Homo sapiens: one gene and its partners. The protein of the gene in region 6 interacts with the protein of the main gene of each other region in a biochemical or structural test. Each region holds a gene or a part of one and is shown on either strand. Other genes may lie near its edges.

Evidence for each region.
Region 1: the proteins of TNKS2 (region 6) and TNKS1BP1 interact in a biophysical measurement, tested with the Homo sapiens proteins (one study listed by IntAct).
Region 2: the proteins of TNKS2 (region 6) and ARPIN are reported together in a solved structure, tested with the Homo sapiens proteins (one study listed by IntAct).
Region 3: the proteins of TNKS2 (region 6) and MYO18B interact in a biophysical measurement, tested with the Homo sapiens proteins (one study listed by IntAct).
Region 4: the proteins of TNKS2 (region 6) and TAOK2 interact in a biophysical measurement, tested with the Homo sapiens proteins (one study listed by IntAct).
Region 5: the proteins of TNKS2 (region 6) and RAD54L interact in a biophysical measurement, tested with the Homo sapiens proteins (one study listed by IntAct).
Region 7: the proteins of TNKS2 (region 6) and NUMA1 interact in a biophysical measurement, tested with the Homo sapiens proteins (one study listed by IntAct).

What each region holds. Positions count from the first base shown.
Region 1 is NC_000011.10:57,307,687-57,311,855, reverse strand, and holds part of TNKS1BP1 (182 kDa tankyrase-1-binding protein), read left to right. Parts: intron 1-337; exon of another isoform or gene 338-492; coding exon of another isoform or gene 493-618; intron 619-1,299; coding exon 1,300-3,461; intron 3,462-4,169.
Region 2 is NC_000015.10:89,902,769-89,906,937, reverse strand, and holds part of ARPIN (arpin), read left to right. Parts: intron 1-2,954; coding exon 2,955-3,161; intron 3,162-3,558; coding exon 3,559-3,722; intron 3,723-4,169. Other genes in the region: ARPIN-AP3S2 (uncharacterized protein LOC100526783), read left to right, coding at 2,955-3,161, 3,559-3,722. UniProt on the Homo sapiens protein: Regulates actin polymerization by inhibiting the actin-nucleating activity of the Arp2/3 complex; the function is competitive with nucleation promoting factors.
Region 3 is NC_000022.11:26,024,971-26,028,818, reverse strand, and holds part of MYO18B (unconventional myosin-XVIIIb), read right to left. Parts: intron 2,375-3,848; coding exon 1,141-2,374; 3' UTR 1,129-1,140; intron 1-1,128. UniProt on the Homo sapiens protein: May be involved in intracellular trafficking of the muscle cell when in the cytoplasm, whereas entering the nucleus, may be involved in the regulation of muscle specific genes.
Region 4 is NC_000016.10:29,983,598-29,986,779, forward strand, and holds part of TAOK2 (serine/threonine-protein kinase TAO2), read left to right. Parts: coding exon 1-67; intron 68-1,615; coding exon 1,616-1,981; intron 1,982-2,060; coding exon 2,061-2,264; intron 2,265-2,667; coding exon 2,668-3,182. UniProt on the Homo sapiens protein: Serine/threonine-protein kinase involved in different processes such as membrane blebbing and apoptotic bodies formation DNA damage response and MAPK14/p38 MAPK stress-activated MAPK cascade.
Region 5 is NC_000001.11:46,246,136-46,251,065, forward strand, and holds the start of RAD54L (DNA repair and recombination protein RAD54-like), read left to right. Parts: upstream 1-1,627; 5' UTR 1,628-2,270; coding exon 2,271-2,273; intron 2,274-2,376; coding exon 2,377-2,463; intron 2,464-3,864; coding exon 3,865-3,984; intron 3,985-4,930. UniProt on the Homo sapiens protein: Plays an essential role in homologous recombination (HR) which is a major pathway for repairing DNA double-strand breaks (DSBs), single-stranded DNA (ssDNA) gaps, and stalled or collapsed replication forks.
Region 6 is NC_000010.11:91,804,528-91,808,696, forward strand, and holds part of TNKS2 (poly [ADP-ribose] polymerase tankyrase-2), read left to right. Parts: intron 1-4,169. UniProt on the Homo sapiens protein: Poly-ADP-ribosyltransferase involved in various processes such as Wnt signaling pathway, telomere length and vesicle trafficking.
Region 7 is NC_000011.10:72,014,543-72,018,711, reverse strand, and holds part of NUMA1 (nuclear mitotic apparatus protein 1), read left to right. Parts: intron 1-198; coding exon 199-316; intron 317-411; coding exon 412-529; exon of another isoform or gene 530-884; coding exon 885-1,025; exon of another isoform or gene 1,026-1,353; intron 1,354-1,824; exon of another isoform or gene 1,825-2,181; coding exon 2,182-2,304; exon of another isoform or gene 2,305-2,451; coding exon 2,452-4,169. UniProt on the Homo sapiens protein: Microtubule (MT)-binding protein that plays a role in the formation and maintenance of the spindle poles and the alignement and the segregation of chromosomes during mitotic cell division.

The DNA of each region.
Region 1 (4,169 bases), on a different chromosome or scaffold from region 6:
GACAGGCAGCTGGGCCTCAGAGGAGGTTAGCCTTGTGCAGTTATCCAGCAAGTTGGTGGCTGGGCCCGGGCCAGCGCCGTTTCCCGGCCCAGTGCCCTTTCTCCTACCAGGCTGCCTCTGAATTTAAGGGCCGGGGGCCAGGTGGCTTTCGAAATTTATTTCTCAAGCCGGGCCTGGGCTGCAAGGGGCGGGGCTGCAGGAAAGGAGGAGCCAGGGGGCCTCTGGGGGCTGCGGGGCGGGGAGAAGGAGGAGCAGGAAGGGGTTAAGCTGACTCCTGTAGTAGGTGTGTCTGTCCCGGGATGTGGGTGACTCAACTGGCTCCTGGGCGGGGCTGCCCAAGCTGCAGCTGCTCCGGAGGGAGCAGGGCCAGGGTGAGGGAGAGCCAGCGCCAGAGCCGTCGGACAGGTCCCAGCGCGGGTAGCAGCCCAGCTCTATCCCTGCGCCCGGCTGGCCGCACCCAGCAGCCCCAAGGCGGGTTGGGGGCGGGGGGCCATGGCCCAGCCTGGGGATGGGGAGGCCAGCATGTCTATCCTGGAGCGGCTGCTGGCCAACGCTGCGCTGAGGGATGAGGCTGGCCGGCTCCGAAGCCCTGAGCCCAGGGCTCTCCCGCCCACAAGGGTGAGTCAGGGAGCGTGAGGTGGGGGGTGGGGTGCAAGAAGCCCTGGCTGGGATTTTCCCCTGTGCCAGAGGCTGCCCCTCTTGTCTTTCCTGGGCCAGGGTGAGGGCTGAGAGGTCTTCCTGGGGAAGATTGAGCAGACGGCACTTTGGCTGGGGAAGAAGGGCCTGGGTACTTATAGGAGGATGGGGGTCAGATGGGGCATGGGGGAGGACGGGCTGGAAAAGCTGTCATTGGTGTTGGAACCTTGCCTTGCAAGGGAAGTCGCAGAGAGGCTTTGAATCTTGACCTCTCCTAATCAAAAGGAAAGTGCACTGCCTGCCATTCCTGTGTGAAGACCACTCCTCTCCTGGCTGTTAGCCAAGTATTGCCCAAGAGTTGTAAACATGACCATGGGACCATCGATTGAGTGCCCACTGCATGCCAAGCACTATGCTGAGTGCTTGGTCTAAATGATCTCATTTAATCCTCTCACACCAGCCCCATGCAATAGGAATTATCCTCGTTTAAGGATGAGGACGCTGAGACCCAGAGTGGTTAAGTGATTTGCTCAAGGTCACACAGCTTTCTGTTGCCAAAGTGGGGCTTTCAGGCACTAGGCAGCGCTGACTCTGCTGGATTGACTCCCACCCTGATGGAATCTAATCGTTGTTTCTTTGTCTGTTTTTTTTTCTTATTCCCAGGGACTCCTTGGCTGGTCCCAGAAAGATCTGCAGAGTGAATTTGGGATCACAGGAGACCCACAGCCCAGCAGTTTCAGTCCTTCCAGCTGGTGTCAAGGTGCTTCTCAGGACTATGGCCTTGGGGGTGCAAGCCCTAGAGGAGACCCAGGTCTCGGAGAGAGGGACTGGACCAGCAAGTATGGGCAAGGAGCAGGGGAAGGGAGCACCAGGGAGTGGGCCAGCAGGTGTGGCATCGGCCAGGAGGAGATGGAGGCCAGCAGCAGCCAAGACCAGAGTAAAGTGTCTGCCCCAGGGGTGCTCACAGCCCAGGACCGGGTAGTTGGAAAGCCAGCCCAGCTTGGCACTCAGCGGAGCCAGGAGGCAGATGTTCAGGACTGGGAGTTCAGAAAGAGGGATTCCCAGGGCACTTACTCCAGCCGGGATGCAGAACTCCAGGACCAGGAATTCGGAAAGAGAGATTCACTGGGTACCTACAGTAGTCGAGATGTAAGCCTTGGGGACTGGGAATTTGGGAAGAGAGATTCTCTGGGTGCTTATGCCAGCCAAGATGCCAACGAGCAGGGCCAAGATTTGGGGAAGAGGGACCACCATGGTAGGTACAGCAGCCAGGATGCCGATGAGCAGGACTGGGAGTTTCAGAAGAGAGATGTGTCACTCGGCACCTATGGCAGCCGGGCTGCGGAGCCACAGGAACAGGAGTTTGGGAAGAGCGCTTGGATAAGGGACTACAGCAGTGGTGGCAGCTCCAGGACCCTTGACGCCCAGGACAGAAGCTTTGGAACGAGACCCCTGAGCTCTGGGTTCAGCCCCGAGGAAGCCCAGCAACAGGATGAGGAATTTGAGAAGAAGATTCCAAGTGTGGAAGACAGCCTTGGAGAGGGCAGCAGGGATGCTGGCCGGCCAGGAGAGAGAGGATCCGGGGGCTTGTTCAGTCCTAGCACTGCCCACGTGCCGGATGGGGCACTCGGGCAGAGAGACCAGAGCAGCTGGCAAAACAGTGATGCTAGCCAGGAGGTGGGAGGGCATCAGGAGAGACAGCAGGCAGGGGCTCAGGGCCCTGGCAGTGCTGACCTGGAAGATGGGGAGATGGGAAAGCGAGGCTGGGTCGGTGAGTTTAGCCTCAGTGTTGGCCCCCAGCGAGAGGCAGCATTTAGCCCAGGGCAGCAGGACTGGAGCCGGGACTTCTGCATCGAGGCCAGTGAGAGGAGCTATCAGTTTGGCATCATTGGCAACGACAGAGTGAGTGGTGCTGGCTTTAGCCCTTCTAGCAAGATGGAAGGTGGTCACTTTGTGCCTCCTGGGAAGACCACAGCTGGCTCGGTGGACTGGACTGACCAGCTGGGTCTCAGGAACTTGGAAGTGTCCAGCTGTGTGGGTTCTGGGGGCTCGAGCGAGGCCAGGGAGAGTGCCGTGGGACAGATGGGCTGGTCAGGTGGCCTGAGCTTGAGAGACATGAACCTGACCGGCTGTTTGGAAAGTGGAGGGTCTGAAGAGCCGGGGGGAATCGGAGTTGGGGAGAAGGACTGGACTTCTGATGTTAATGTGAAGAGCAAAGATTTGGCTGAGGTCGGGGAGGGAGGAGGCCACAGCCAGGCCAGAGAGAGTGGCGTGGGGCAGACTGACTGGTCAGGTGTGGAGGCCGGAGAGTTCCTTAAATCAAGGGAGCGTGGAGTTGGACAGGCAGACTGGACACCTGACCTTGGGCTGAGAAACATGGCCCCAGGGGCAGTCTGCAGTCCTGGAGAGTCCAAAGAGCTTGGGGTGGGCCAGATGGACTGGGGTAACAATCTGGGCCTGAGGGATTTGGAGGTGACCTGTGACCCAGACTCTGGAGGTTCTCAGGGGCTACGGGGATGTGGAGTGGGGCAGATGGACTGGACCCAGGACTTGGCGCCCCAGAATGTGGAGCTCTTTGGGGCTCCAAGTGAAGCCAGGGAGCATGGGGTGGGCGGGGTGAGCCAGTGCCCAGAGCCCGGCCTGAGGCACAATGGCAGCTTGTCTCCTGGCCTGGAGGCCAGAGACCCCTTGGAGGCCAGGGAGCTGGGGGTTGGTGAGACAAGTGGGCCAGAGACCCAGGGTGAAGATTACTCCTCGTCTTCCTTGGAGCCACACCCTGCAGACCCTGGAATGGAGACAGGAGAAGCCCTCAGCTTCGGAGCAAGGTAATGAACGGAGCCCCATCCCAAGTGTGGGAGGGAACATGTGAAGGCTGTCCAAGAAATCGGAACCTTTCTGAGGAGGGAAGAAACAGTTTTTCCTGAGGACTTTTAGTGTTTGGGTAATTGAGACATTTTGGACTAAGAATTTTTAGTTCTACTTAAAAATAATTGAAATATGATACACATACAGGTGAGTTCCTTTTTTGAAGGATGACTAATGTGTTACTTTTGCAACCCATGTTTGAGCTTGGTGATTTGGAATTGTGACTGTGACGGGGGAAATGGTGCATGTCATAGCTTGGATGGTTTCTGATGGGTTCTACTCTTGTACACAGTAGCCGTTCCCCAGGCCTCTCAGCCCTGAAGCCACAGGTGGTTTCATAGGTATAGGGCAGAGAATTCCGTGTCTTCTTGGCTGGGGCCACCACAGCCAGGAGTGGAGTGGACAGTGGAACCCACGGGTTCTCAAAGAGGTTAGGTACTTGGTGCTTCTTGCCTGTCCTGTCTTGAAGCCTGGAATAGCAAGTTCAAGAACCTGAAGGGTATGGGGACCTGGCCCCATGACCTTGGCCTCTGTGCAAATTTGCTGAAAGAACTTTCCAAAGGCTTTGCAAGGCAAGCACAGTCTGTTTCATGGATGTTTTAAAACCAGCTGAGATGGTTTTGCAGCTGAGAAACGTGCTAAAAAGGCATTGCATCCGTTTTGTTAAC
Region 2 (4,169 bases), on a different chromosome or scaffold from region 6:
TGTCCCCCAGGCTGGAGTGCAGTGGCTCAATCTTGGATCACTGCAACCTCCGCCTCCCAGGCTCAAGCGATTCTCCTGCCTCAGCCTCCTGTTAACGTACGAATTTTGGGGGATACATTCCAACCATAGCAAGCCCTCCATGATCTTCTTCTTCTTCCTGATTTTGTCTCTGGTTGAGCCTCTTTGCTGTCTGCCCCTGGGTGAGAAGGTTTTGAGGTTGAGTGGGACTCTATCACTTTATTCATTCATACCTTCAGTTACTCATTGACTCTCTGAACATTAGGGACCATCTATATCATGTGCCAGCCCTTGTGCCACATGCTGAGAGGTCCAGGGATGAACAAGACCCAGTCGTATACTTGAAATGTTCTTAGTCCAGTAGAGGAGATGGACAGGCCCGGGCCTGGATCCCGTGAAGGGTGCTGAGCCCAGGCAGGCATGGCTGGGGATGCCCTAGAGCAGGGAATAACAGGACTGAATCCTGAAAGATAAGCAGAGGTCAGCCAGGTGCCAGGGATTTGCAGGGTGTTTCAGAGAGGCAGAGGGTGCCCAATGCCTGGCAGTTGAAGAGTTCCTGACCCAGGTATGAGAAGCCATGCAGGGCAGGCAGCAGGAGGGGCGGGCACTGAGGAGCTCAACTCTAACCAAGGGTGCAGGGCAGCCCTGTAGTGAGGTTTTAAGTAGGCAGGTGATGTGATCAGGTCTGTGTTTGAAAATCTCCAGGGAGGCAAATAGCCTGGAGCCCAGCGATGCCTGTGAAAAAGCTGTTAGGGTCACCTAGGACAGAGATAAGAAGGCCAGGATTAAGGACCTGTCAGTGGGGGTGCAGAGACTGGAGGAGCTCAAGCTAGAGGAGGCACAGTGGCCTCAGTGTTGGCTTGGCTACTGGGGAGGAAGAGGAAGGAGTCGTGATGATGCCAGGGGTTGGGCATCGGTGCCAGACTTGGGGAAATGGAGGGGCGAGAGGTTTGTGGGGAGGAGGTCTGTTTGGAACACACTGAGTTTGAGTTGCCAGGAGCACTGCTGGGTAGAGGTCTACTGAGGCCTTGGAGGATAGTTCTAGAACTTGGGGAGAGAACTGGGCTGCAGCACATCGAGAGTATTGAAGCTATGGAAGTGGACCCAGTTACCCAGGAGGAGAAAAGAAGTGGGCCCAGGAGGTTGTCTTGGGAAATAGCAACAATAGGAGATGGATGGAGAAGGAAGAGCAGGAGATGGAGCCACTGAAAGGTCCGAGGGATGGGAAGGTGTCATGTCTCTAAAGCCCCGCGAAGCCAAGGGGAACAGGCGTGAGGAGCTAGCAGTGGGGTCAGGCACTGCCCACGGGTTAGTTAGGTCTGAGATATGGAGCATCCAAGAAGTTTGCAGGTTAAGAGCTCACCGGTGACTCTGGTGGGGGTACATGGGGTCTGGAGCAGTAGGTGTCAAAGCCAGAACGCAGGAAGGCCTTGAGGAAAGGTCAAGGAGTGGGGAGAGAGAGACAGGTCCTCAGGAGGGGGGAAGGGGTCTATCTGCAGCCCAGATGGAGGAGCTGGCTTGAGGCAGGAGGAGAGGCCTCCTATCCTTTGAGACAGAAGGAAAGAGGAGATGTTTTGTGTGGTCAGACGTGAGTTGATGGCTGGGCGTGGTGGCTCACGCCTGTAATCCCAGCACTTTGGGAGGCTGAGATGGGTGGATTACCTGAGGTCAGGAGTTTGAGACCAGCCTGGCCAACATGGTGAAACCCCGTTTCTAACAAAAATACAAAAATTAGCTGGGTGTAGTGGCACACGCCTGTAATCCCATCTACTCGGAAGGCTAAGGCAGGAGAATTGCTCAAACTCAGGAGGTAGAGGTTGCAATGAGCCGAGATTGCACCACTGCACTCCAGCCTGGGTGACAAAGCGAAACTCCATCTCAAAAAAAAAAAAAAAGGGTTGACAGGTGAGTGGTCAGGGAAGTGAGAGGTCTCACTTGATGGCTTCTGTTACCTTGCAAAGAAAGTGAGATGCTCTGTCTAGAGGGTGTCAGGGCAGAGGGCTGAGGAGGATGGAGCAGTCCTGTGGGAGCAGCCACCTGTGCAGTCCCAGAAGGCACCCCTGGCAGAGGTTGGCTGAGGTTGTACACCATGAATGGAATGTGCTCCATGAAATGTGTTCATGGGTTGGCTGGGATGTTCTCCAGTGAAGTGCGGCCACCTGGGCTTGGCGTGGCGCAGGCAGCCTGTGGGACAAGCTCCGGGGTTGCTGTGCTGGGGTGTGGCCTTGTGAACACACAGTCCTGGGAGGCTGGGCCCACTTCACAGTCCGGGAGTGCCCCTTCCCTAATCCAGCACCTGGATTTAGGACTCCTCCCTTAGTCCATGAACTCTGCCAGGGCCAGGAGAGAGGAGGGGGACTACCAGAGTTTACTCCTGGTTCCAGTAGACCTCACCCCAGCCAGGTAGACCCTGAGAGCCTGGAGAGAACCCTGCCTGGCCACCGGGGTCTCAAGATGGAATGTGTTGGGGTGCTTTGAATCCTGCCTCCTCTACTACTGTGTGACCTTGAGCTAATTACTGAACTTCTCTAAGCCTTAGTTTTCTCATCTGTAAGATGGGAATAGTGAAAACATATGAATGCTTACCTAGGGGTCCATGTGCCAGGCGCTGTGCTACATGCTTTATTTCCTTTATACGTCATTTCAGTCCTGTCAGGTAGGTTCTGATTTTATCCTATTTTTCGGGTACGGAGAGGTGATGTAACTTGCCTAAGTTATTGTGGAGCCCAGATCTGCACCAGGCTGCCTGTCCCCAGCTCATGCCTGTCCGCCTCTGCTGTGGAGTTCCTTGATGAGGACTCGCAGAATGGGCACTGAGTCCCAGCCTCCGGGTGACTGAGCTTGGAAACACTCAGCCCTCACCTGGCTCCTGAGAGGCCCTCCGGAAGTTCTTGCTGCCACAGTGATAATGACCCTCCTGCGCTCTGTGCCTGCAGAGGTGGAAGCCAAGGGGGACACTGACAGGCTCACGCCCGAGGCGCTGAAGGGGCTGGTCAACAAGCCAGAGCTGCTCGCGCTGACAGAGAGCCTCACCCCCGACCACACAGTGGCGTTCTGGATGCCCGAGTCAGAGATGGAGGTGATGGAACTCGAGCTGGGGGCCGGGGTACGGCTGAAGACTCGGGGCGATGGTCCCTTCCTGGGTGAGCAATGCAACCCTCACTGTGGCCCACTGTTCCTGTGTGGCCCATGGGGGCTCTTGGCCTCCCTTCTGCCTAGAGCTCATGGGAGCAGGCAAGGGCTGGCCTCCATGGGGACACGACCAAGCCCTTGAGATTTACTCCTAAATCCCTGCACAAGTGCCCTAGGGCCATTGGGCTCGACAGCCTGGATCCCCGGGTGCCACCCAATCCCATGGTTCCTGTGAGCGACTCTCCCACCATACCTTGGGGGTCCCACCCAGGGGCTCATTGACCACATCTATGCCTGGAGAAAACAGTGGTTTAACCCAGGCCTAGGGGACCCCACCATAATGGGCCCAGCCCTCACTATGTTTCTGCCACAGGGACAGAGGACATTCAATTTCATCTCTTCTTTCAGATTCATTGGCCAAACTTGAGGCTGGAACAGTGACCAAGTGTAATTTCACTGGTGATGGAAAGACAGGGGCATCCTGGACAGACAACATCATGGCCCAAAAGTGTTCGAAGGGGGCTGCAGCGGAGATCCGAGAGCAGGGGGATGGGGCAGAGGACGAGGAGTGGGTAGGTACCTGGTGTTGGTGCAGTTGTATCTCCTGGCAGGAGCATGGTACATACTGGTTGAGGTTGTGGGTAGGATGAGAAGACGACAGGATGAATCTTACCCCCCAGCTTTAGTGGAATTCTGTGAAACACCTGGGAATGTGTTAGCATCAGGAGAATTCCTCTAAGGTATGAAGAATGACAACCTGGGACCTTTCTTGTAGGTGGCTCTGAACCTAACTATTCCCCAAAGATTCCCAAGTGGTAGGAAGGAGGGGGTGCAGAGGGATATTAATCATGGTCATTAAGTCTCAAAACATTTCTACTTCAAGTGAATACATTAACCATGCTGAGGCAGTTGAACAACTGAATGCGTAGTTTTTCCTCCTTTGGTTTGGGCTCCTTGCCTGAAGTGTCTGGAGAATGGCTGACCTGGTCCTTACTGGTTTTTCTTTTGATGAGAGTCAG
Region 3 (3,848 bases), on a different chromosome or scaffold from region 6:
CCTCCCGGGTTCATGCCATTTTCCTGCCTCAGCCTCCCCAGTAGCTGGGACTACAGGCACCCGCTACCACGCTCTGCTATTTTTTTTTAGTGGAGATGGGGTTTCACTGTGTTAGCCAGGATGGTCTCGATCTCCTGACCTCGTGATCCGCCCGCCTCGGCCTCCCAAAGTGCTGGGATTACAGGCGTGAGCCACCGCACCCGGCCTGAATTCCTCTTCTTACCTTGACTCCAGATGAGTGGCAGGATGAGTGCTAGGAGAGGGAGGAAGGGCAGCAAGTAGTTACTTATCCTGCATTGTTGCTCTGTGATTTTTGTACTTGTTCCCTCCCCCCTGAACCTAGGGCCTCAGTTTCTCTCCATATGCAATGCAAGTGGACTCCACTATTCTGAAGGTCTCTTCCAACTTGGCCCTTTGCATGTCTGTGATCCCACCACGGATCTTCTGTCATTATGTGGACAGAACGCCATCACAGCTCCTTCAAACCCAGGTGGAATGACATTAAGAAAAGAAAATGACAGTAGGGTGAGGTAACTTTAAACATCTGGCACCTTTTTTTTTTTTTTTTCCCTGAGACAGAGTTTTGCTCTTGTTTCCCAGGCTGGAGTGCAGTGGTGGCACCCTCAGCTCACTGCAACCTCTGCCTCCCTGGTTCAAGCGATTGTCCTGCCTCAGCCTCCTGAGTAGCTGGGATTACAGGCGCCCGTCAAGACACCTGGCTAATTTTTTGTATTTTTAGTAGAGACGAGGTTTCACCCTGTTGGCCAGTCTGGTCTCAAACTCCTGACCTTAGGTGATCCACCCGCCTTGGCCTCCCAAAGTGCTGGGATTACAGGCGTGAGCCACCGCGCCCGGCTACATCTGGCACCTTCTTTAGCGGTATCCCACAGGAACCTCTTACTTTCTGATGTGTCTGCATTTCAAAGTACAAGGAAGTAGAGGTACCCAGCAGAGGGGTTCTGAAAAGCTTTGCATCCATCAACACATGACTTCAGCTAAAACCTCTAAAAATCTTGGTCTCTAGAGAAATCGGTTGTGGCATTAAGGACAGTAGTGGCACCTGCTCTCCCCAAGGCTGCAAGGTGAACTCTCATTCCCCCAAGAATAGCCCCAGCCTGTTGCTTTTACCTGAACTGGTTCCTACTTCTGGAGGTATTTCTTCATTATGCTCGCAACATCGTCGTCTTTCCTCCCCGTCCCTGGCTCTCTCCGCTCGGGGGACGTTCGCTCGCCACCGTCACCCGCAAGTCGTGGGATTCCTGGTCGACTTTTGATGCTGTCAGCACTTTTGAAGGACACGATGGAGCCGGAGGATGAGGACGAGTCAGACAGGTGAGCGGGATCCTCCTTGGGCTCCGGGCTCTTCTTCAAAATGGTCTTGATCCCCGAGAGAAAGGAACGGTTAGCCTCTTCCGTTTCAAAGTGGATGCTTGAACGCTGTGAACCGTCTTGCCCACCTTTGGCTGATCCAGCCAAGGAGGTAGGTGTCTGGGGCTTCCGGATAGCTGGGAGGAAGTCATCGAAGTCCACTTTGGTCTTGCGTTCGTAGTCGAGGCTTGGGAGTTTCCAGCTGAATGGGTCACTGCCTAGAGGTTCCTCCATCAGGTGGGCAAACTGGCGGTTCTGGAAAACAAGCGGCTCCTTTCCAAGGTCTGGACAGCCCGCATCGTCCACAGAGGACTCCAGACACCGCCTCCGAGGACGCAGTGTGGGCGACAACAGCATGTCCCTGGGTGTGGTCGGAGAGCTCAGTTTTCTCCCCATGCTCGGTCTGGATTCTAAGAGGGACTCGCAGGAACTGAATTGGGTTTTCGACTTTTCGGGGAGTAGGGTTGTGCCCCCAACACCGTCTGAAGAGATGCATTTGAGGCTGGTGGACCTCAAGAGACCACCAGCGGCCCCTTCGATTTCCAGGGGTGACTTTGCCCCAACCCTCAGCGAGAGGTTTCCCTCGTCACTGCCAGCCCTGCCCCTCCTTAGTGTGGAGGCCCCAGTCGTCTGGTAAATGGGGAGAGTGGGCCAGTCCTCTAGGCCCAGCGTGGACCCCTGGCCTCTCTGGGCTCTCTTCCTCCGGAGCCCTTCCACGAACTCCGAGAGGGCCGCTGAAGGACTGGGCAGCTTTTCCCTCGACAGCGGGGATGTATTTGTACTCCGAGAAGCCAGGGGAGAGGAAGCAGGTTCTAATCTCTCTGTGGACTTTCTCTGGACGGCAAGCACTTCGCCGTCCCCAAAATGACAGTACTTTTGCCGGCGGACAAAGTGGGGAGAAACAGGCTTGTCTCCTGAGGTCTTGCTGTGGACATTGGTGGACCGGGCTCTGCTCAGTGCCAATGCCGACTGGGTCCTCTCAGTGTCCCCAGCCTCTTCGTTTATCCTGTGCCAAGAAGAAAAATGCAGTCTGTAGAAATTGTGCAATTCATACAATTTGTGCAATCGGTGTGAGAGCCCCTAAGCACAGGCACTAATATTATTTTTCTTTGGAAATACCATCCCTACCGCACTCTCAAATGAACCATATGATTTAATGTGCAAATTCAAGCCATGTAAATGATTTCTTGTTGCTTTCCGAATGCAATTTCTATCTATAATTAAACCCAGCTAAGTACATTTGAGTAGATTAAAACTGCAGCTAGGACGGATGAATTAGATTTATGAGGCATCATATCTGACATGATAGGACCTATCATCCCAGAGCTTACTGTGAAATAAGTAGTTTGCTTCTTCAAGACCGGAAGGGGACATGCAGTGGGCTGTTTGTTTATTTGGGGCCAAGCCTAGAGGACAGTCCCACCAAGTGGGGCTTCTGAGAGTCAAGACCCAAATATGTGTCTCCACGGGATACCCCATGACATCCCTGATTGTTTCATGGGGTGACGGTGTAGGTAAAATCTTTTTCCCCCAAAAGGGAAAGATTCACATGAAATCAACTTAAAACCAAGACTATACACAAGAGGACAGACGGTTTCTATTCTGGGACTACACCAGACGTGGTTTTTATGCAGAGGGAGTTTGTGGCAGCAGCGCCAAAAACACTTTGCCTCTGAAAAGTAGGAGGCTCACAGTGGGACCAAATTATAGACTGTAAAATAAATGGCATCATTCAAAGGAGAGAGACTGGAGTCCATCAACCTTTCCTTTAATAAATAAAATCTATTTGTCCTCTCTCTAAGAGAAACGACCCCATTCCCTCCCCTCACCAAAGTTATAATTTATTTTTTAAAAAAGTAAAAAAGTTGCCAAATGTCAGAGTGTTGGCACTGCAGATAAAGCCACTGTGGGCTCAGGCCTGAAGAGATGCTGAGGGCGATGCACACGCGGGTTTCCAATCATGGGGTCCCTGCCTCTGAGTGCTTTGTTGCTGGAACTGTAACAATCAGGACGATTGTAGGATTCAGAACTCTATGTATAAAGGGTGACTGAGATTCTGCTACAAGACTTTGAGGAAGACTTCTTGCTTACCCAGTTGGGTAACACCACTTCCACTCCTGATCACACAGGACAGTTTAGGAGAAATAGAACTGACCACAGTGACCCAATGGGCTTTTGAATCTGGGAAGGAAGCCAACCCAAAGCTCCCTTGAGGTGATGGCCATGGAAGGCACGGGAGGGAATGGCTGGGGTAGGAGAGCAGTGTCTTTCCCAGGGAAATAGGTGGGGGCTGAAATAGATTCAATGTTTGTCTCCCCCGAAAATTAATATGTTGACACCTAATCCTCAATATGATGATATTAGGAGGTGGGGCTTTTGGGAGGTGATTAGGTCACCAGGGTGGAGCCCTTGTAAATGAGATTAGTGCCCTTATAAAAGAGGCCCCAGAGGGCTCCCTCACCCCTTCCACTGTGTGATGA
Region 4 (3,182 bases), on a different chromosome or scaffold from region 6:
TTCCGCCCGCCGCCGGGCCTACTGCCGTAACCGAGACCACTTTGCCACCATCCGAACCGCCTCCCTGGTGAGTGTAGCCATCCTCACTCAGCCTGCTCGCTGTCTGTTTTTTAAGTCTTTTTAAGTCTAGAAATGATTTCCTCCCTGTGGCATGGGATTGAGTCTGGATTCTACCCTCATTTTCTGTTGCTGGCTCCTGCCTGCTCCCCTTAACCCTCCTGCTTCCCTCCTCTTCCCAGTGGACTGTTTTGGTCATATGGCCCAATCTGGGTGTTTCTAGCTTGGCAAACTCTTACTCCGTTTTTGTGGCCTGACTTAACTGACATCTCCTGGGTTGCCTTCCCAGGCTCCTCTGGTGAGTCAGATGCTTCACAGTTGTGTGCTGGGGAAGCCCAGTGCTGGGGGAGCCCTGTGCCTGTGGAGCCCTGTGCTGGGGGTGTCCAGTGCTGGGGAGCCCTGTGCCGGGGGTGCCCTGTGCTTGGGTGGTCCTGAACAGCATCATGATAGGTTTGCCAGATTCTGTGCCCCAGAGGGCAGGGATGGTGTTCAGATATCTGTCTCATGCCAGCAGTTAGCTCTCAGGCTTACACACAGGCCTGTGTTAACCCTCCCAGCCCCCCTGGGAGGGGAAGGGTAAGATCCCATTGGAGAAATGAGGCACCTGTGGCTCAGAGGGGCCACTTGCCCCAGTGCCTTTGGTGGCTCTCTGCTCCTGTAAGCAGGCCCTTAGTCCTCTCCTAAAATCAACTCATGGCAGTCTTTCTCAGTTCACAGGAAAAAGTGTTTAGGCTTTTCATAAAACATAGTTTTTCATCTATGTTTTTAGATCACGTTCCTGCTGAGCTGCATTTGAGCGTCAACAATCCCCTTAGAGGCCACTGATTAAGTCTAGTATGTTCTTATGGCCTCTGCTTGGTGCTGGTTGTGTTCCAACAATTCTTCAGATCCCATGGTGTTGTGCGGTACTGTGCTGAGAGGTCTTGACTGCCAGGGGCTTGGCTGCCGGGACTAGTTTGAGAGCCACTCATAGAGTCAATTGAGAATGAGACCTGAGATCAGACTTTGGATGAAGGTGTCCAAGCCCAGTGTTCTTGTTATTCCAGCATCTTGTGGCCCCGATCCCACCTCAATACCTGGGGAGTGATAGGCCGACCATGTTTGCTGAAGGGGAAGGAAGCCAACACTTATTAGATAGAGTCCGAACTTACCCCACAGCCCCTATGAGGAGGTATTATTTCCCCATTTAACAGATGAGGGAACTGGTGCTTTGAGAAGTTAACTTACTTGAGATCACATGCTTGGTAAGTGGCAAAGCTGGGATTTGATCCCAGGTATGTCTGACTCACTGTTTCAAATTAGTATGGATTGTTCCTACTTTTGTGCCAGGCCCTGTGCTCGCCACCTTTTATCATTCGGCCACACCAACTTGTGATGTAGATAATATCACCATTATCCAGTTGAGGAAACAGGCTAGAGTGGCCGTGTGTGAGGAAGGTGTTAAATGAGAATGAAACCCATGAGTTGAAAACCCATGCTCTTCCCCACGGAAGACCCCTTGTGTTAATTAACTAGGGGCCAGGCTGAGCCCCAGCTCTCACCCTCTCTCCTTCCCCAGGTCAGCCGTCAGATCCAGGAGCATGAGCAGGACTCTGCGCTGCGGGAGCAGCTGAGCGGCTATAAGCGGATGCGACGACAGCACCAGAAGCAGCTGCTGGCCCTGGAGTCACGGCTGAGGGGTGAACGGGAGGAGCACAGTGCACGGCTGCAGCGGGAGCTTGAGGCGCAGCGGGCTGGCTTTGGGGCAGAGGCAGAAAAGCTGGCCCGGCGGCACCAGGCCATAGGTGAGAAGGAGGCACGAGCTGCCCAGGCCGAGGAGCGGAAGTTCCAGCAGCACATCCTTGGGCAGCAGAAGAAGGAGCTGGCTGCCCTGCTGGAGGCACAGAAGCGGACCTACAAACTTCGCAAGGAACAGCTGAAGGAGGTGAGCTAGGGCTGCTTGGGGGCGGAGCCGATGGCGAGCCAGGTGGGTCCTGACCCTGCTTCCCTCTGCACTCGCCCAGGAGCTCCAGGAGAACCCCAGCACTCCCAAGCGGGAGAAGGCCGAGTGGCTGCTGCGGCAGAAGGAGCAGCTCCAGCAGTGCCAGGCGGAGGAGGAAGCAGGGCTGCTGCGGCGGCAGCGCCAGTACTTTGAGCTGCAGTGTCGCCAGTACAAGCGCAAGATGTTGCTGGCTCGGCACAGCCTGGACCAGGACCTGCTGCGGGAGGTAGGCATCCCAATCTCTGTTCCCCTCCCGCTCACTCGTGGATCCCAGGGACCCACCCTTTTCCATTTTCCTCATTCTTGTCTTCTTTCTCCTTGGCCCTCGAGTGTTACAGTTCAGCTTTGCTTCAGTGCCCCTTTTACTTCTCATCCCCAACAGACCCTGCCAGAATTTCCTTAGGCCTCTTTTCCCAGGCCAGGGAGGAGCTTGCCTCCCCTACACCCTCATCTCCTGCCATCCCCAGCTCCCTCTGCCAAGGAGCCCTGGCCCCTCACTTCCTTGATACTGACCAGGCCCTGGGCCCTGTGTTTCTTCCGCCATCCCCAGCTCCCTCTGCCAAGGAGCCCTGGCCTCTCACTTCCTTGATACTGACCAGGCCCCGGGCCCTGCATTTCTTCTGCCTCAGGACCTGAACAAGAAGCAGACCCAGAAGGACTTGGAGTGTGCACTGCTGCTTCGGCAGCACGAGGCCACGCGGGAGCTGGAGCTGCGGCAGCTCCAGGCCGTGCAGCGCACGCGGGCTGAGCTCACCCGCCTGCAGCACCAGACGGAGCTGGGCAACCAGCTGGAGTACAACAAGCGGCGTGAGCAAGAGTTGCGGCAGAAGCATGCGGCCCAGGTTCGCCAGCAGCCCAAGAGCCTCAAAGTACGTGCAGGCCAGCGCCCCCCGGGCCTTCCACTCCCCATTCCTGGGGCTCTGGGCCCACCCAACACAGGCACCCCTATAGAACAGCAGCCCTGCTCACCTGGCCAGGAGGCAGTCCTGGACCAAAGAATGCTTGGCGAGGAGGAGGAAGCAGTTGGAGAGAGAAGGATTCTGGGAAAGGAAGGGGCCACTTTGGAGCCCAAGCAGCAGAGGATTCTGGGGGAAGAATCAGGAGCCCCTAGTCCCAGTCCACAAAAACATGGGAGCCTGGTTGA
Region 5 (4,930 bases), on a different chromosome or scaffold from region 6:
TATTTTTAGTAGAGACGGGGTTTCACGTGTTAGCCAGGATGGTCTCGATCTCCTGACCTTGTGATCCGCCCGTCTCGGCCTCCCAAAGTGCTGGGATTACAGGCGTAAGCCACCGCGCCCGGCCCAGAATTCTTTGTTTTGAGATAGGGTCTTGCTCTGTCGTCCAGGTTGGAGTGCAGTGGCGCGATCTTGGCTCACTGCAGCTTGACCTTCCAGGCTCAAGCGATGCTTCCAAGCTCAGCGTCTGCAATAGCTAGGACTACAGCTGTGCACCACCATGCCTGGCTAATTTTTTTGTAGATATGGGGTTTCTCCGTGTTGCCCAGGCTGATCTGGAAGTCCTGGGCTCAAGCAATCCTCCTGCCTCGGCCTCCCAAAGTGCTGGAATTACAGGTGTGAGCCACCATGCCTGACCTCAGAATTCTTGATAACCCTGTGAGGATGGCTTAAGCTATACTCAGGTGTGTGACCTTGTACAAGTTACTAGCCTATCTAGGCCTGTTTCCTCACTTACAAAATGGGGACAAAAATAAACCTACCTCATAGTCATGAGCATTACATGAACTGTTATATCTTAGAAGCTCAGAAATGCCTGGTGGTAAATGCTATAAATACACCCTTATCATTATTAGTGAGTACCTAGGTTGTGCATGCCACTGTTGGGTGCTTTACGCACATTAATTTACTTGTCAGAATAGCCATGGGGGGGAGGTACTATTATAATGCCACTTTAGATATGAAGAAACTGACGTTTTGAGAGATTGGATGATTAAATCTCTGACTCCAAACACAACGCTTCCTCCAACGCGGTTTGGCCTTGGAGAGGAAGGCAGCTTCTTTCAAGACACCCCTGAGCGAGAAAGTCGCGTCATCCGGGGGCTCCCATTGCCCGAGCCCGCCACGTGGCAGTCTGGGCCGAATGCCTCTCCCCACTTTCTGGGTGGGCGAGGCCTGACTCCAACCCCGGCCCTCCGCTCTAGACCTGGTACCACTGTAGATTCAATCCAAACTCCCAGAAATGTGCCGCCTTTCATAATCCCCAGCTGTCCACTACAGGTGGTAACTCCCCTGCTGCTCAATGTGGCGTAAATCTTCCCTTCCATAGCTGCGGGACCACAGCTCACCGACCTGGGACAAACACCCGAGACGGGCCGAATTCCAGCTCGCAGGTAGTAATTCCGCCCCTCCCCTCCCCGCTCCGTCGCGTCCAGTCCAGCTCTTCTAGCCCTGCCCCGCTCCTCTAGCCCAACCGCTCCCCACTGTTGGCCCCGCCCCTCCCCGCCCCGTCCAGCTCTTCTCGCCCCGCCCCGCTCTTCTCGCCCAACTGCTCCTCGCTGTTGGCCCCGCCCCTCCCCCGCCACCCCCGCCCCCGCCCCGCCCCTCTCTTCTCGCCCAACCGCCCACCTCTGTTGGCCCCGCCCTCCCATCTAAGTCACGCCTCCTAGTAGGTCAATTTAGCTTCTCCAGCTCCAGAGCCCAGACTCCTCATTGGGCGCAGCACTATTCCCGCCTCTTCCTTGGGTCGCGAGCGCCGAACTCATCGAACGCAGCCAATGGGTGATACGACGGCAGCGCGGCGGGAGGTTCGATTGACCCGGTCTTGGCGGGTCGGTGAGTCTTGGCGGCTGTTAACGCGCGCTTTGGGAACAGGAAGGTTGAGAGAGAGGTGCTGGGGTCTGCGTCTATCTCTGTCGCTCTTTTCAGCCCCTCCTGGTATTCCCCTCCTAACCTGGGTTTTTTACACGCCCGCGTGGCTTCCTGCTCGACCTCCCTGAGTCTGATCCTGGTTTCCACCTCCAGCCCTGGGAAATTTCCTTTCTCCAGACTCGCCCTCCCCACCCGGGCCTCGGACTTTCACCCCAGCTTCTCTCTCCTGGCCAGTGATTACCCACCCCCAATCCCACCCCGCCCCGCCGCGCAACTACCTCCTCCCTTCACCCGGACTGGGACCATCATCCCCACTCCACTCCGCCCAGTCTGGGACTCCACCTGCCTCCTCCCCAATCCCACACTAATCTCTGCTTGGTCTCTTCCTCTTTGGCCTAATCTCTCGTCTCGGCTTATTGGGGACGGCCACTCTCACAGTTTGGTTCCAAACACCAGTTCCTGGATGGATTCCCGCCATCCATGCCCCCTCTTTAATTAGCCGGTCCTCTCAATAATGTAGCAGCCCCCTCTACAGATTAGACCCTGGTCCTACACTCTTAGCCGCTGCCTGCTTTTGACCTTTGGCTCATGGGTACTTGACGTTTTAAACTCCTAGGCCCAGGATGGTAAGTGTGGGCCTAGGGGAGACTGGGAATAGCCCTGGGTCAGGGTCTAGTAGGCCTAGGCTGCAGGATCCTTGCAGGCACTGTTTCTGTTCTCCCTTTACAGAGGAGGAGCTTGGCTCCCAGCCAGCTGGCCAAGAGAAAACCTGAAGGCAGGTCCTGTGATGATGAAGACTGGCAACCTGGCCTAGTGGTGAGCACTCAAGGGGACAGGGAAGGTGGGTAGAGCTGTTTGGACAGAAAAGAAGCCAGGATTTGGTTTCTAGGGTTACATAGCCAATTCCAGATGCCTCTTTTGTATGTTCAATAAACTTTTAGTGAGTACTTACTATGTGCCAGGCATTGAACAAGATTAGTAAAATCTTTATCCTCAGGGTAGTCACTAGAAGCTAATATAGCCTCAGTTTTCCTGGTGGGAAAAGATAAGCAAAAGAGCCAGTTGGATTGGACCTTTTGACTCTGCTTGGAAAAAAGGGCTACACAACAGCAATTAGCAGCTGGCTCTTTTGCTCTTTGTCCCCTGCCCAGTGTCACAGAACAGTAGAGTGTTCTGGGCCTACCTTGGAGTCCTGGGCTCACTTGGGCCTAGATCTGACAGGTTGTGTCCTTCCAGTCCTTGCTCATACTCAAGTACAGTATATTCTACTTTAGGTTGGGCCCTGGGCTCTGCTTCCTGTTTTGGAGGCTTGTTGGGGCTGGCTGTGGGCAGGACCTATGTAAACCAAAATAAATAGGACAGTGCAGCATGGACTTCAGAGAATAAGAGCAGTTCAAGAAGTGGGGGCTTGGCCACTGGAACTTTGAAGGAAGGGATCAGCTACGCAAGGACTAGAAGGCACTTTTTGGCAGGAGCAGTGTGTGAATAAGGTGTGGGGTAGGGGTGCTGGTGTTTGTTTCAGGTGTGTCTTACAGGATCACTGAGGCTTCAAATATCCTGGCAAGCTGGTACAAGTGTGTTCTTGCCTAATGGCTTGATGGGGCTTGCTCAATAGTTGTACCGTGGTGTGCAAGGGGCTTCTCTACCTGTGAAGGAGGCACATTGGCTGACCCTTGCCATGTACATGGGTCTCAGACTTGAACTTGGGGCAGCATTCTCTGCATCTGGGTCTGCTGTCAGTTGCTGGTTGCTTCTGAAGATGCTTTTAGTGCCAGTGTCCTCACAGCCATGGGTGGCCTGAGTGGGGAGTGGCCTCAGTGGCCTGGGAGTTGAAGGCAGCTGTATTCTTGCCTCTTGGAAACTCAGCGAAATGTTTGGTTGCTCCATCATTCCATGGAGCTTTTGGAGTGAAGCTTTGGGCCACCAGGACTCCATGCTGTTGGTAGACTTGCTCTTCAGAGGCCCATTTTATTTACCTCTTCCATTGCCCCGCTCAGTTTAGGCAGGTTATTTAATCTCATTAAGCTCTAGTTTTCTCACCTCTTAAATAAGGATAATAACTCTACATAATAGAGTTGCTATGAAGATGATACACTATGACATGTGTGAAGAATTTAGCACAGTGCCTGGCACTTAATAAGCACTTCAAGTGTTAGTTGCCATTATGGTGATTTCTGTGGTCTTCTAGACTTCACCTTTCCCAATTCTCTCTCCTAGACTCCTAGGAAACGGAAATCCAGCAGTGAGACCCAGATCCAGGAGTGTTTCCTGTCTCCTTTTCGGAAACCTTTGAGTCAGCTAACCAATCAACCACCTTGTCTGGACAGCAGTCAGCATGTAAGCCAGAACTGCAACCTGCATGTGTATGTCTGTGCCCAGTCACTCAGCCTAGGTAGACTCCTGTCCCTGTACACTCCCTCAGTGCTTTCTAGAGTGGCCAGAAGACACACATCTGTAGGGGCTTTGGACCTGCCCACAGCTGCTGGGGCCTGCTTAGAGAGGTGTGCCTGACTTGTGCCTGGTTTATAGTAGCTACATGGGCACCAGATATCAGATGGTTCAGATTCCTGAGGAAAGGAGGGTAAAGGAACTAGGATCCTCATGTCAGCTCAGACTCTGACTCTGTATATGACTTTAAGGTGTACCAGAGTCATGTATTTCCTCTAGTAAAGTCAAACTTAATCACCACCATGGCAGGTTCTGTGCATTGCCTCATGTAATTCTCACGTTTTAAGATGAGAAAACAGTCTCAGAAGGGTTAAGTAATTTGCTCAGAGTGGGTGGAGCAGATCTGTCTATCTCCAAAGCTTTTCCACTAAGCTTTATGAGGAATGTTTTGAAGGAAAAGTAGGAATACATAATGGAGATTAGTCATTTGTGCATTCAGCAAACATTTAAAAACGGTTTTGTGGCCGGGTCGGGTGGTTCACGCCTGTAATCACAGCACTTTGGAAGGCTGAGATGGGTGGATCAACTGAGGTTAGGAGTTTGAGACCAGCCTGGCCAACATGGTGAAACCCCGTCTCTACTAAAAATACAAAAATTAACTGGGCATGGTGTCATACCCCTGTAGTCCCAGCTACTCAAGTGAGGCATGAGAATCACTTGAACCCGGGAGGCCGAGGTTGCAGTGAGTCAAGATCACGCCACTGCACTCCAGCCTGGGCAAGAGTGAGACTCGGTCTCAAAAAAAAAAAACAAAAAACAAAAAACAAAACAAAACAACTAAATGAAAACAGTTTTGGGCCAGGCGCAGTGGCTCACGCCTGTAATCCCAACACTT
Region 6 (4,169 bases):
TCTGGTTCCTCATAAAGAGATCCTTAGAATATGGAGATTTACATTGACTCTGATGATATGCCTATTCATGTTCTACCTGGCCAGTGAGAACATGATCAGAATATACCCTGCAGAGCATTTTTTCTTCCAGAAATTGGTGCTTAACAGAAGTACTTTGAACTATTCTTGAGACCATAACAATAGAGATTTTATCAAGGATTACTCCTCAGTTTGGGAAGTATGGTTTTTTGGGGGTTGTGGGGGTGAGGCACAGAGTTTCACTCTTGTCGCCCAGGCTGGAGTGCAGTGGTGCGATCTTGGCTCACTTCAACCTCCACCTCCCAGGTTCAAGCAATTCTCCTGCCTCCTGCTTCAGCCTCCCGAGTAGCTGGGATTACAGGTATGTACCACCACGCCTGGCTAATTTTTATATTTTTAGTAGAAACAGGGTTTCACCATGTTGGCTATGGTGGTCTCGAATTCCTGACCTCAGGTGATCCACCCACCTCTGTCTCCCAAAGTGCTGGGATTACAGGTGTGAGCCACAGTGCCCAGCCAGGAAGTATCTTCAATCTAAAGATTTCGCCAAACTCCAAGCAACTTTTTTTTTTTTTTTTAAACATAGCTACCTATTGACTGCCTCCAAATAATTTCCTTTAAGTGCCCAAGATGTGGCTTCAAACATTAAAATCTCAGACTATTAATCTACTGTCTCAGCATAGCAGATTACATTCACTCACATATTGTAGTCCTTACAGTGTGACTGTAAAATCATACCTCTACTATCAGTCACCAGACTGGTTTCAGACATCTTAATGACTAGGGAATCATGTTGATACAGACATTGACACAGAAGTCTGTGTCTTGGAATGTTGGTAACTATGTGGATATAATCACTTTACCCATTCTACCCATATCGATCGCCTCAGCTAAAACTTCAGTTTCAGTTATGTCTTTCTCTTTAACTCTGATTTCATGCAACCCTCTTCTCTTTCCAGCCTTATTTTGACAGAAGGCTACTACTTGACCTTCCTTTAGATCACCAATCCTTTGGGACAGATATCTTCCCAGTTGACACTGTCTCTCATAACAGCTAGTTATTTTACTCCAGCTATTTCTGTGCACATCTAACTCTCCTTTCTGGGGGAGTTAACCTGTGAGTCACCATTTTGATTACTTCAGATATGCTTATTACTGCTGAAGAATAGTAATCCTTATTCTAAAATGCTTGGGTACATCAAATAACTTTATAGAGGTAGCTTTACAGGTTTTTCTTTATTTTGATTCTTTTTCTCTTACTCTCCAATTTAAGAAGCCTTTTTCTAAAAGCACTTCCTGCAGGTGGGTGCTAAGTGGTTGGGATAGCAGAACCATAGATTAGGGCAACTGTAGATAACCTACTTGGGGAGGACAGTGTGATCAGCAATGCCCAGGAAGTGATCAGGAAGGAAGGCTGAAGTCAGGGCTAATGACAGCAAGAGCTGACCTTCCCCTCTGACATTTTCCTACTTGGCTTCTGCAATGCCATTCTTTCTCTTTTTTTTTTTTTTTTTTTTATATTTTATCTAATATTTTATTTACTGATCTCTCTGAAACATGCCAAAATTCATATAGCTAAGGGAACTTACCATGCTAAAATGTTGTTCAACATGACAAATTTATACAAAACATATTTCAATGTAGTGCCTTCATTTCATTCTTGAGGAATCAACATTACATTTAGGTGGTGAAATTTAGGATACAAATATAATTATCAAATATCGTACTTCTAGTTTACTGGAAAACATAACAGTTGTGACAGTAACACCTAACACCTTGGTTAATTAAAGACAGAAAATGGGCAGGGGTGTCACAGAAGTATGCAAGGATTTGACAGTTCAAACTAATCCATAGCCCTTCTGAGAAACTACAGATGGAAAATATGTAGTAAATATTTCTGTAATATGGTGGTTTCAGTACATTATAGCACAGTGATCATCATTCCATTCATACACTCAAATAAATGCTGCTTCTGATCACTGAAAACTAGATTCAAAGTCATTGCTCAACAAGCTGATACTACAAATCCCTTATATTAACAGGTACTTTAAATGTGGAAATAAGGCAAAGCATACTTGTTAGTCACAATTACTTTTAGATATAATTGAGACTACACTGCTATACATAATTAGGTACACAGTATGTATAACAATGCATACTATGGTGTGGGGTTAATTCCAATTACCATATTTTATATTTATTGGTCACAACAGCATACATTTTATGCTCCAAAATACATGGATCTGACAAAATGGTTACATTTAATGTTCTTTTAAGGAAAGATGAACTAAATTTAAGAAGAATTGGTTTTTCCTAATATCTCATTTTCAAATTACTGATACAAATTTGCCAGAGAAACAATTACATGTTTTACCTAACATCAAATAATCTCCAGTTTCTAAGACAGATGCATTTCTTGTTCAGTTTCCAAAAGTAAATAAAGGCTTTCTAACTGAAAACATTTGCATCCCTAGCTCTCTAAAGTAAACATTAAAAAGAAAATTACAAAAAATGACCTCTAAGCTTCTGAACAGTCCACTTAGTTACATAAAGTACTTTCTGTCCCAACACTTTCTCTAATTCAAAAGATATTTACTTCCTAAGTACACGACAAAGTCTTCATTTCAAACCATTCACTCAGTTTCCATGGTAACATTGCGGGCTTCCTTGGCTACCATAAGTCGCATTAGTTGACTGTGGAATTTCTCAATCTTCTTTACATCTTGAGCTTGGTCTGTTTTATACACCAAACAAACTAAATCATCTGTTACTTTAACACACAAGTTCCCATCAGAATGCCTATATTTGAGAACCACACGTGCCTTCATAGGGTCAGCGAGGTAAAGCTTCTCGGCAGCGCGGCTGAACTCCTCCCAGGTCTGGTACTGCGGCATCGTGGCCTAGAGTGGAAAAGTAAAGAGAAGCAAGGCCTCAGAACCCGGCCCAACAAACTACCTACGTCCGGGAGTCGCCAACCGACGCGAGTCCTGCAATGCCATTCTTTCTTAGCTTTACTTCTCAGACTCCTTTTCATATACTGTGATACCTTAATTCAGCAAATGTCAACAAATTGCTCTGTACCATGTACTCTAAAGGATGCTGGGGAAGTAGTGATGAATTAAGATGCACATGGCTCTTGTCCTTCATGGAACTAAGAGTCTAGAAAATGCCGGGCGCAGTGGCTCATGCCTGTAATCCCAGCACTTCGGGAGGCCGAGGCGAGCGGCTCACGAGGTCAGGAGATCGAGACCATCCTGGCTAACATGGTGAAACCCCCCCTTTACTAAAAATACAAAAAAAATTAGCCAGGCGTGGTGGCGGGCACCTGTAGCCCCAGCTACTCTGGAGGCTGAAGCAGGAGAATGGCATGAACCCGGGAGGCAGAGCTTGCAGTGAGCTGAGATTGGGCCACTGCACTTCAGCCTGGGGGACAGAGCGAGACTCTGTCTCAAAAAAAAAAAAAAAAAGAGTCTAGAAAATAAGGCAGTAATTACAAATTTTAATAAGTGACAAATACTGCTATGAACAGCAAAGACAAAAATCCCTGTTGTATGGAGCTTGCATTCTAGTGAAGGAGGTGGGAGATAGACCAACTAAATGGTGTGAAGATAGGAAAAAATGTGGATGGGCAGAAGGGACTATTTTAGATGGGATGGTCAGGGATAGCCTTCTTAAGGAGGTGACATTTAAACAAACCAGGTAATGAGTAGAAGTGAGGATGCTTTGTGCAAGGGAAGAGCATTCCAAGCAGAAGGGTGGCATGTACCAAGTCGCTGACATACTTGACAAACTGAAAGTATATTATAGTTGGGAAAGGGAAGAATCGTGTGAAATGAAATTAGAGAAGAAGTTGAGGGCCAGTTCATGAAGGAGCTTTTAAGGCCATAGTAGAGTGTTTGAATTTTATTCTGAGAGCATCAGTGGGAAGCCAAGGAATTATTTTAAACAGGGCTGTGATATTATTATTTTTAAAAGGTCACTAGAGACAAGTGGAAATGAGAGACCTATTTAGGGGAGACATTGCAGGAGCTTATGCTGGAGGTGATAGTGGTTGGAGTAAGGTAATGTCAGTGGAAATAGAAGTTGGAAACGTGTTGAGTTTGAGATACCTTTAAAATATCCAGAAGGAAATATGTTAAGCAAACATTCTG
Region 7 (4,169 bases), on a different chromosome or scaffold from region 6:
GCCTGTGGTCAGGCTGACCTCCTGGAAGCTAGGTTCTGTCTTTGTCCCCATCTTCTCTTTCCCTTAGATTGGATACCATATTCCTCCTCTTCCCTATGCCGTCTCCTCCCTTCCCCTTGTGCACATAGTTCTGTGCACATAGTTCCGCTCATGCACATAGTTCTGATTCTCCTCTCCTCCTCCCTCCACTCTGGGCAGATGCACAGATAGCCATGATGCAGCAGCGCATTGACCGCCTAGCCCTGCTGAATGAGAAGCAGGCGGCCAGCCCACTGGAGCCCAAGGAGCTTGAGGAGCTGCGTGACAAGAATGAGAGGTACAGCTCTCCCTGCATTCCTTCCCAGGCCCCAGCCCCTCCCCTCACCCAGCCAGGAACCCATACTCTCTTCTCACTGCTTCCCTCCCTCGCAGCCTTACCATGCGGCTGCATGAAACCCTGAAGCAGTGCCAGGACCTGAAGACAGAGAAGAGCCAGATGGATCGCAAAATCAACCAGCTTTCGGAGGAGAATGGAGACCTTTCCTTTAAGGTGGGTGTTAAGGTGGTGTGTGCATGGAGGCCCCTCAGGGCTGAGGTGGTCTGGAAGGCTCCCCAAGAGAGGGTTGAGAAGAATGTCCCAGCACCTGTCTTATGCTTCAGTCTCTCCAGAGACCTGCATATTTTGCCCCTTTCCTTATCCCATAATTGGCGGCTTCCCGGGTACTGGGCTGTGACCCTAAATGTTGATTTGTAGTTCTGAATTAGAGGTGTGATGGCTGTGATTGGTTTGTAGAGGGTTGGCAGGATAATTGGAGGCATCCAGCCCCTGGGGTTCTGGGAGCAGACAGCAGTGGTGGGGTCAGCGTTGACTCTGGGTGATGGGGATTCTCACTTGCCCGTCTCAGCTGCGGGAGTTTGCCAGTCATCTGCAGCAGCTACAGGATGCCCTCAATGAGCTGACGGAGGAGCACAGCAAGGCCACTCAGGAGTGGCTAGAGAAGCAGGCCCAGCTGGAGAAGGAGCTCAGCGCAGCCCTGCAGGACAAGGTAACCCTCTGCTGGGGTCACAGCCACAGTCTTGACCACATGTGCAAAGCTGAGTCCAGTTTACCACTGTGCTCTTCTGGGCCTTTGGGTATTAAGTTGCTTTCTCTTCAAGGTTCAATAGTGTGCTGTAATTGAAAGATTGTGGGCTTCAGTCTAGTACACCTTTTTTTTTTAACTTATTTTTTTTTTCCCCAGTCAATGCCCTCACTTTATAGTACACCTTTCAATCCTATCTCTGCTGTTCACAAGATGTGGATCTTGGACAAGTTAATCAGTCTGTTTTTCTAAGCATCCTTTCCCTAAAATGGGAGTAGTAACGAGTAGCTGCCTCATCACCTATTATGAGAAAACGTATGTAAAGCACTTCACACATCGTGTAGTGTAAAGTAAGCTCTCAGTGAACCAGTTGTGATTGTTACTATTGGTAAGAACCCAATTTGGCCACTTACTAATAACCATGTAGCCCTTGATCAAGGCACTTAGCATCTGCTTCAGGTTCTTGCTCTGTAAGAGGAATGGTAGTAGCTGCCTCCCACATAAGCTGGGTGTGGTGATGCATGCCTGTAGTCCCAGCTACTCGGGAGGCTGAGACAGAAGAAGCTCTCGAATCTGGGAGGTGGAGGTTGCAGTAAGCCAAGATCTCGCCACTGCACTCCAGCCTAGGCGATAGAGCGAGACTCTGTCTCAAAAAAAAAAAAAAAAAAAAAAAAATTAGGGATGAACCCAGCATAGCCTATTGTAGGTGCTTAGTGAACAGTGGTGAAGAAGTGGGTTTGGGACTGGGGGTTGCTGCAGCTGCTGCCAGTGGTATTGCTGCCCAGAGGATGGTGGGCAGCTGGTGGTGATTTGGATAATCTAGGACTCAAGACTTATCTGAGGAAGGGTATACGGTAAGGAAATTTGAAGTAAACTCAGCAGCCTTGGGGAAGTAGTAAGCAGGTTACATTATGACTTTATTGTGCCTTAGAACTAGGTCTAGAGAATCAGGTCCCTCATGCTCCCAGTTCCATGGTTTCTGCTTTTTTCTAGGCCAGGGCAAAAGGAGATCTTGGTAACAAGATGATGGGCCCCATGTTTGCTGATGTTTATGAGGGCTTGTGTGGTAATCTGGTGCCTGTTCCCCCTCTCTGTTCACATGGGTCTCATTTACTCCCAGAAATGCCTTGAAGAGAAGAACGAAATCCTTCAGGGAAAACTTTCACAGCTGGAAGAACACTTGTCCCAGCTGCAGGATAACCCACCCCAGGAGAAGGGCGAGGTGCTGGGTGATGTCTTGCAGGTAGGAATGCACAGAAAGACCTGTGTGCTGCTGGTTGGTGTGGACTCACATTCAGTACATTTGGGTTCCTGGTGTTCCTCCATTTCCAGAGGAGTCTTGATGACTGAGGAGTCATGCTGATCCCAGTTTGTCTCTTTATACCACCAGCTGGAAACCTTGAAGCAAGAGGCAGCCACTCTTGCTGCAAACAACACACAGCTCCAAGCCAGGGTAGAGATGCTGGAGACTGAGCGAGGCCAGCAGGAAGCCAAGCTGCTTGCTGAGCGGGGCCACTTCGAAGAAGAAAAGCAGCAGCTGTCTAGCCTGATCACTGACCTGCAGAGCTCCATCTCCAACCTCAGCCAGGCCAAGGAAGAGCTGGAGCAGGCCTCCCAGGCTCATGGGGCCCGGTTGACTGCCCAGGTGGCCTCTCTGACCTCTGAGCTCACCACACTCAATGCCACCATCCAGCAACAGGATCAAGAACTGGCTGGCCTGAAGCAGCAGGCCAAAGAGAAGCAGGCCCAGCTAGCACAGACCCTCCAACAGCAAGAACAGGCCTCCCAGGGCCTCCGCCACCAGGTGGAGCAGCTAAGCAGTAGCCTGAAGCAGAAGGAGCAGCAGTTGAAGGAGGTAGCGGAGAAGCAGGAGGCAACTAGGCAGGACCATGCCCAGCAACTGGCCACTGCTGCAGAGGAGCGAGAGGCCTCCTTAAGGGAGCGGGATGCGGCTCTCAAGCAGCTGGAGGCACTGGAGAAGGAGAAGGCTGCCAAGCTGGAGATTCTGCAGCAGCAACTTCAGGTGGCTAATGAAGCCCGGGACAGTGCCCAGACCTCAGTGACACAGGCCCAGCGGGAGAAGGCAGAGCTGAGCCGGAAGGTGGAGGAACTCCAGGCCTGTGTTGAGACAGCCCGCCAGGAACAGCATGAGGCCCAGGCCCAGGTTGCAGAGCTAGAGTTGCAGCTGCGGTCTGAGCAGCAAAAAGCAACTGAGAAAGAAAGGGTGGCCCAGGAGAAGGACCAGCTCCAGGAGCAGCTCCAGGCCCTCAAAGAGTCCTTGAAGGTCACCAAGGGCAGCCTTGAAGAGGAGAAGCGCAGGGCTGCAGATGCCCTGGAAGAGCAGCAGCGTTGTATCTCTGAGCTGAAGGCAGAGACCCGAAGCCTGGTGGAGCAGCATAAGCGGGAACGAAAGGAGCTGGAAGAAGAGAGGGCTGGGCGCAAGGGGCTGGAGGCTCGATTACAGCAGCTTGGGGAGGCCCATCAGGCTGAGACTGAAGTCCTGCGGCGGGAGCTGGCAGAGGCCATGGCTGCCCAGCACACAGCTGAGAGTGAGTGTGAGCAGCTCGTCAAAGAAGTAGCTGCCTGGCGTGAGCGGTATGAGGATAGCCAGCAAGAGGAGGCACAGTATGGCGCCATGTTCCAGGAACAGCTGATGACTTTGAAGGAGGAATGTGAGAAGGCCCGCCAGGAGCTGCAGGAGGCAAAGGAGAAGGTGGCAGGCATAGAATCCCACAGCGAGCTCCAGATAAGCCGGCAGCAGAACGAACTAGCTGAGCTCCATGCCAACCTGGCCAGAGCACTCCAGCAGGTCCAAGAGAAGGAAGTCAGGGCCCAGAAGCTTGCAGATGACCTCTCCACTCTGCAGGAAAAGATGGCTGCCACCAGCAAAGAGGTGGCCCGCTTGGAGACCTTGGTGCGCAAGGCAGGTGAGCAGCAGGAAACAGCCTCCCGGGAGTTAGTCAAGGAGCCTGCGAGGGCAGGAGACAGACAGCCCGAGTGGCTGGAAGAGCAACAGGGACGCCAGTTCTGCAGCACACAGGCAGCGCTGCAGGCTATGGAGCGGGAGGCAGAGCAGATGGGCAATGAGCTGGAACGGCTGCGGGCCGC